Homo sapiens: one gene and its partner. The gene in region 2 interacts genetically with the main gene of each other region. Each region holds a gene or a part of one and is shown on either strand. Other genes may lie near its edges.

Region 1 (3,777 bases), on a different chromosome or scaffold from region 2:
TGGTTTTCTGTCCTTGCGATAGAAAGTAGTCATTCTTTTCAAAAGCCAGCTAGATTTTTCCCTTATGTTTTTTTTTCCAAGAAACAAAAACAAAATCCAATAGCTATAATTTACCTGTTGTCGTACAGAAATAAAATTTGGATCCATTTCCCCACTAGGTAATAACTGAATTGAAGTTAGGTCTTTGAAAAATGCATTTTTTCCCTAAAAAGAAAGAGAGCAAGAAAACTGATGAGTGTGGATTATTAAGGGGGGAGAGGGAGAAAGATTTGTTTAAAACTTAATAATAACTTATGGTTGATTTTTATTTCTCCTTGAACAGTAAGATTTTAGAATAATTTTTATAACAATTATCTAGTATATAGTAGACAGCCTTTAAGATGAAACCCAGTGATCCCCTCCTCCTGGTATTCGTGTTTCCTATAGTCTCCTCTCCTTGCATGGAGGCTGATGACTTGCTTCTAGCAACAGAAGCAGGTAGAGGTGATACATGTTACTTCCAAGACCACGTTCCAAAAGACTGCTTCTTCTGCCTTGAGGCACTCATATTCACTCTCACTTGTTCTGCAGGAAGCCAGGTTCCGTGTTGTGAGCTGCTGTATGGAGAGGCACATGTGGCATAACTGAATCTTGCCAACAATTGTGCTTAGAAGTGAATCACCCTGTCCCCATCCCAGTTGAGCTTTCAGATGCAGCACCTTAACTACAGCCTCATGAGAGACTAAGCCAGAGGCACCTAGATAAGGAGAACACAGATTACTGACCCACAACAACTGTGAGATAATAAATATTTGTTATTTTCAGCCAAGTTTTGGGATGATTTACTCCGCAGTAATAGCTAAGTAATACATATATGTACCCTGAATCCTTTTTTTTTTTTTTTTTGAGACAGAGTCTCACTCTGTTGCCTAGGCTGGAGTACAGTGGTGTGATCTCAGCTCACTGCAGCCTCCACCTTCCTGGTTCAAGCGATTCTCCCACCTCAGCCTCCCAAGTAGCTGGGACTACAGGCGTGTACTACCACGCCAAGGCTAATTTTTTTGTATTTTTAGTAGAGACGGGGTTTTCACCATATTGGCCAGGCAGGTCTCAAACTCCTGACCTCAGGTGATCTGCCCGCCTCAGCCTCCCAAAGTGCTGGGATTACAGGCATGAGCCACCGCGCCCAGCCTCTGAATCCTTTTAAAAACACTTGTTGAATTGTTTAAAAACACCTTATTTAAAAGAACAGATGTGTGTCTAAAGAGTAAAAACAGAATATCAGGAAACAGGATTTTAGAAGTTCCTTGGAAGGAAATGTAATACAGAGCAAAGAACATTGGCCTTTAAGTTGAAAGACCTGGGTCTAGTCCAAGGCTCACCACTTCCATCCAGGTTGCCTTGGGTAAATGACCCACAATCTTGGGTTACCGTTTCTTCTTCTGCAAGCAGGTCATCCTAGGTATCTTCCAATGTGCCTTCCATACCTAATCATCTGTGATTCTAGGTCATCTGTTGTGACTGCCAAGTAGATTAAAGCTACTCATCCTTTAGTGATAAGAAAAACCGGACTTACAGGGCAACCCATGACATTTTGGACATCACTGAGAGAAGTATTTAAAGATTTAGCATACACTCACAATCTGTTACTCGATAGTTCCCACCTGGTGGTCCTAGCTATAGCATCTATAATAGCACCACTTATTATTTACTACATTCCAGATGCTGCTAAGTACTTCATGTTGAATACAAGGAACCCTTACAACAACCATGAGGCTGGCACTGCTACTTTCTGAATGAGAAAACTGAGAGTAAGAAAATCTAAATAATTCTAGTTAGCAAATGGTAGCACCGGGATTGTTTTCACTAGCCACTCAACCATACTAGCTCTCTGCAGATGAGTGTCACCCAGCTGTCTCAGGTAGTCTTGGCATGACATGGGTTGAAACTAAACATTATTGTGCTAATCCAATTCTGGATGTGTTCTGGTTTCACAAAGGCCTTTTCTGATGGGAATACTGAGCTAGGCACTTTATTTTGGTATTTCTTTCTCTTTTTTAACTTTTAAGTACTCTTATCGCTTATATTCTCAAAGATATACTAACTCATTCAAAATCTATACTTTTTTTTTTTTTTGAGACAGAGTCTCACTCTGTGGCCCAGGCTGAAGTGCAGTGGTGTGATCTTGGCTCACTGCAACCTCTGCCTCCCAGGTTCAAGCGATTATCCTGCCTCAGCCTCCCAAGTAGCTGGGAGTACAGGCACACACCACCATGCCTGGCTAGTTTTTGTGTTTTTACTAGTGACAGGGTTTCACCATGTTGGCCAGGCTGGTCTCAAACTCCTGACCTCAAGTGATCTGCCCACCTTGTCTTCCCAAAGTGCTGGGATTACAGGTGTGAGCCACCATGACTGTCCGGGAGTCTCTCATTTAAGGGTGAAATAATAAACCCACTTTCCCACAAGCCTAAGCTGTGTTCTCTAACCCAGCTTCTATCAGTAAAAAGCTAAGTAATAATGTTGACGTTTTTGTCTCCAACAGTTTGTCCTGTCTCTCAAAATTTGACACCTGCGTGGGGAAGGAAAGGATTTTACTATCCACTGCAGCTAAACTGTGAAGGTTACAATAGAATATGTAAAAACATATTCTACTCACAAATTTGGACTTGATCCTGCAGAGGAGCCAAAAAAAATCTTAGGTATAGAACTAATACAATTAAACCTGTCTCTTAGGAAGACAGCTCTTGCAGCATGGGACTGGAGAGAGAGAAACTGGAGGCAGCGTGATTAAGAAAGGGCTGTTGTAATAGCCGAGGGAAAGATGATTATGCCTGAACTAGGGTTATAGTCATGGAGAGAAACGGACAGGCATGATCTATGGCAGAATTTACAAGAATGAATTTACAATGAAGAAAATTGGCTTGAAGTAAGGAATTGGTGAGATAACTTCAAAGTTTCTAGTTTTTGCCAGGGCAAAAATGATGACATCGTTAATAAAATAACCAAGTCAGGGAATTCAGAAGGAACAGCAAATTTAGGTTAGGGGCAGGATGTGGGTATTGGTTTGCAGATATATTTTAGATATGAGGTGTCTGAAGTCCTATAAGACACTCAAAGAGAGAAGTTCAAAAGAAATGAATGCCTCAAACTCTAGGGATTGGTCAGGCCTAGAGATATATAAGAGGGAGAAAATGAGTCTGTCCAGGAATAATATGGAGAATGAGAAGAGCAGACAGCTGAGAGGGCAAAACTCCAAGGGGAGCAGTACAGAAGGTAAATAAAAAGAACGGAATCAAGCAGGGAATGAGGGAGTTGGAACCTCACACCAAATTATACCAGTCACAAAAGTACTGGACAGCTTCTATTAAATATGAAAATCCATGTGTCTGCTAAGCCTGCAACTCCAAAATAGCTCTGAAATCCTGTGAGGTACTTACCTTACTGTCAAAAAGTGAAAGTGGCTTCACGGTCTTCAGAGAAAACCTCATGACTGCATACAAGATGGAGCACAGGATGGAGTGGTGCTCCACCAGTGGGTAGTGGATGTGCTTCTGTTCAAGGGCCAGTTCCACTATGGAGATTGGTCCTTCCACGGAGAGCCACGCATCCTCAGTATCCAGCACAGGCACCTGTATTTCATCCCTGCTAACATCTGCCTAAGGGTTTTGAGAATGGAGGACTGTGTTCAGTAATGGAAAAATAATAGCTTACAAATATCCCAATGAGTTTATTAGCAGCAAAGTGCAAATTCATATTGCACACTGTCCCAAATTGTAATAAAAAAACACAAAGTCTAAT
Region 2 (3,624 bases):
ATTCTCCTGTCTCAGCCTCCCGAGTAGCTGGGACTACAGGCGCCTGCCACCATGCACAGCTATTTTTTCTATTTTTAGTAGAGACGGGGTTTCACCGTGTTAGCCAGGGTGGTCTCCATCTCCTGACCTCATGATCCACCCGCCTCGGCCTCCCAAAGTGCTGGGATTACAGGCAGGAGCCACCAAGCCCAGCCACTTTTGTCATTTTTGTATGGTTATTCTATTTAAGGCAATTGGTTCTCCATCAATTTAGTGATATAAACTCTGCTCACATAATTAATTTTATATGCCTTTGAATAGACACAGGGTAACTCTGGAAGGATAGACAAGAAACTGGTGACAGTGGCTGCCTCTAGTGAGGGGAACTCAGAAGCTGGGGACAGGAATGGATTGGAAACTTAGTTTTATCAGTTTACCCTTTTGTATATTTTGAACCTACTCAAAAAATAAGTAAATCTTAGTTTAAAAATAAATTTAAAGGCCAGGTGTGGTGGCTCATGCCTGTAATCCTAGCACTTTGAGAGGCCGAGGCAGGCGGATCACGAGGTCAGGAGATCAAGGCCATCCTGGCCAACATGGTGAAACCCCGTTTCTACTAAAAATACAAAAAATTAGCCAGGCATGGTGGCACGCGCCTGTAGTCCTAGCTACTTGGAAGGCTGAGGCAGGAGAATCGCTTGAACCCGGGAGGTGGAGGTTGCAGTGAGCCGAGATCACGCCACTGCACTCCAGCCTGGGTGACAGAGAGACTACATCTCAAAAAATAAATAAATAAATAAATAAATAAAAATAAAAATAAATAAATAAATAAATTTAAGCAAATAAAGACTTACAGGTAAGGTTTTGGGTAAGGGAATATTGTGAAGATGGTGGTCCAGGGCCTGGGCTGGCACACATGGGCCCTTCCCCTCAGCCCTGGCTTTCCCTGGCCGCCCCAGGCTCCCAGTATCAGGTGCAGGGGAGGAGAGGAAGTAAAGGGTGCCATACTTACGTCCTGACTGACCTGTAAAGACACCGTATGGTAGCTGGCAGGCACGCCTTCGTCCTCATCATCATCACTCTGCCCGCCCCGAGAGGCATGTTGGCTGGAGGTTCGAGGCCGGCGAAGCATTGATCCCTCTTTGGATTTCTTCTTGAAGCGGTTCCCTTTGCTGTCATATTTGTGACTCTTGCCACGTTTCTCCTGGGACTTGCATCCTGAGCAGAGCCAGACTCAGGTCACATTTCTGTGTCTATATAGGCATAGATACCCTGCCTTTTCTCCCCTCTCAGCCTCTCCCCTGCATAATTGCATGGCTACTCCCCAGCTGCCCCCTCATCAGCTGACCCACCGCCATTCAGACTGGCCTCCACAAAGATCCGGAGAGTCTTGACGCAGAGCTCAAAGTTGTCAGGTGTGATGTGGGCAGCATCACGCACAATGAAGGACAGCGATTCCACACACTTAAGCAGAGACTTAGTGTCGTGTGGCCCCAAATCCAGTCCCACTGTTAGGCTGTATTGATTGATCAGGGGTGAAGGGCCTGGGCGGCTGGGCCCTGGCTTGGAGTTATCAACGTCATCCTTCCCAACCTGTAAAGTACACAGAGGAGCTGGGGACACAGGCTTGGCCCCTGTGTGAATGTCCTTGCAGAGGACCAGGAATTCTTCCCACAGGTCAAGCAGGAGAGACTCAATTGCTGCCCATATTGTCACTCACCACTAACCAACCACTGTTGACCACATCGGCATCTGTGGCTGATCGGTGTATCTTGCCCGGCCTGCCATGGTCAGTGTAGACCTCTGAGTCGGAAGTGTACCCTCGATCCAGGCTCACGTCATTCTGATGGTAGGATGGGAGCTCACTATCTGACTGGGCCCCTATGGTAGGCAGGGAGAAGGGCAGAGTCAGGGTGGGGATGGGGCACTGGGATGAGGGATAAATCAGGCTCTCAGAAAAAAGATGCTGAGGCCTGGCCTCCCCTCTCTCTGGCATAGTTTAATTTCTGTCACCAGAGGGCCAAAGGATGGCCGGAACAGTTTCTCTGTTGACCAAATAAGGTGGCAGGCTAATCTGGGTTCCTGATGGCATCTAGTGGCAGCTGTAGCACCACTCTAGGGAGTGGTGGCAAGGACAAATAAGCAATGCAGAAGGCTATGAAGCCAGGCTTTCCACTGTCCTGAGGACTGTTTTCCCAGTTTCTGGGATTTAGTGATGTATCGATTTAGTGATATAAAGTCTGCTCACAGAATTCTATTTTCCCAGAATTCTGGGAAAACAGTCCTCGGGACAGCTCAGAAACAGAAACTGGGAAACAGTCCTCAGGACAAATCAGTCCTCAGGACAGTAGGAAGCCTGGCTTCACAGCCGTCTGCATTGCTTATTTGCCCTCATGCTATTTAACTTATGGGTACTAGCCAGCGGGCACTGGAAGCTCTGGAAGTGATGGCAGGAGCCAGGGCTGTTTAATCTGCTGAACACAGTAACCTGTGTTTTGTTTTCCTGTCCCAACTCCTGGGGTGTAACTGTTTATCTGCCAGCCTGAGTCTCCCTGGGAAAGGGCTTACCGGCATCAGGTGCATCTGCCCTGGCTGTGGCCTGCAGAGCAGCTGGAGGCTTCACACCTGAGCCGATGCACTCCAGCAGTGTGAAGAGTGTGGCCCAGTCATCACCTGAGTGGATGTTGGCTGCATTGGTCTTCAGGAGTTCATGGAGCCCATACGCAACCTGGTGGCTGACTCGGGATAGCACACTGGGCTTCATCAGTAGCAAAATGCGCAGGGAGAGCAGCACCTGGAGTGGGGTTAGGGCAGGGAGCGGGGAAGCGGGGAGCTGTGTGGGCACACAGCTTCCTGTCTAGTTTTCTTTCCCACCAGTCTCCTTAGGCCAGTGAAGACAGTTTGGCTAGGACCCAATTTAGGATACTGCTCTGGTCTTTTTTTTTTTTTTCAAATAGAAATATATTAATTATATTATTTGAGACAGGGTCTTGGTCTGTCTCCCAGGCTGGAGCACAGTAGCACAATCACAGCTCACTGCAACCTGAAACTCCTGGGCTCAAGTGATCCTCCTGCCTCAGTCTCTGGAGTAGCTGGGACTACAGGTGCATGTGACCACACCTGGCTAATTTTTTTTTTCTTTTTTGGAAAGATGGGGTCTCGCTATGTTGCCCAGGCTGGTCTTGAACTCCCAGGCTCAAGCGATCTTCCCGTCTCAGCCTCCTGAAGTGCTGGGATTATAGGCATGAGCCACTGCACCCAGCCTCAAATACAAATTTTTATTGAGAAAATTATAGGCTCATATGCAGTTGTAAAGAAATAATACAAAAAGGTCCCTTATACACTTTGCCCAGTTTATCCCAATGGTAACATTATGCAAAACTATAGTATAATATCATAATCAAGATACTATCTGATCTTATTCAGATTTCCTGTTTTACTTGCATTTTTGTGTGTATTAATTTCTATACAATTTTATTACCTGTGTAGGTTTGGGTATCCACCACAAAACAACATACTGAACAGTTCCACCACAACAGTATCCCTCATGTTGCCTTTTTCTTTTTTTAGAGACAGGTTTTGCTCTGTCACCCAGGCTGGAGTGCAGTGGTATGATCATAGCTCACAGCAGCCTCAAACTCCTGG

Evidence for each region. Genes that interact genetically often act in the same process or in processes that back each other up.
Region 1: changes in GBF1 (region 2) and RAB3GAP2 together harm fitness more than expected from each alone (negative genetic interaction), as found in Homo sapiens cells (one study listed by BioGRID).

Annotation. Positions count from the first base shown.
Region 1 is NC_000001.11:220,153,854-220,157,630, forward strand, and holds part of RAB3GAP2 (rab3 GTPase-activating protein non-catalytic subunit), read right to left. Parts: intron 3,636-3,777; coding exon 3,417-3,635; intron 205-3,416; coding exon 115-204; intron 1-114. UniProt on the Homo sapiens protein: Regulatory subunit of the Rab3 GTPase-activating (Rab3GAP) complex composed of RAB3GAP1 and RAB3GAP2, which has GTPase-activating protein (GAP) activity towards various Rab3 subfamily members (RAB3A, RAB3B, RAB3C and RAB3D), RAB5A and RAB43, and guanine nucleotide exchange factor (GEF) activity towards RAB18.
Region 2 is NC_000010.11:102,374,508-102,378,131, reverse strand, and holds part of GBF1 (Golgi-specific brefeldin A-resistance guanine nucleotide exchange factor 1), read right to left. Parts: intron 2,774-3,624; coding exon 2,548-2,773; intron 1,861-2,547; coding exon 1,700-1,860; intron 1,573-1,699; coding exon 1,332-1,572; intron 1,198-1,331; coding exon 992-1,197; intron 1-991. UniProt on the Homo sapiens protein: Guanine-nucleotide exchange factor (GEF) for members of the Arf family of small GTPases involved in trafficking in the early secretory pathway; its GEF activity initiates the coating of nascent vesicles via the localized generation of activated ARFs through replacement of GDP with GTP.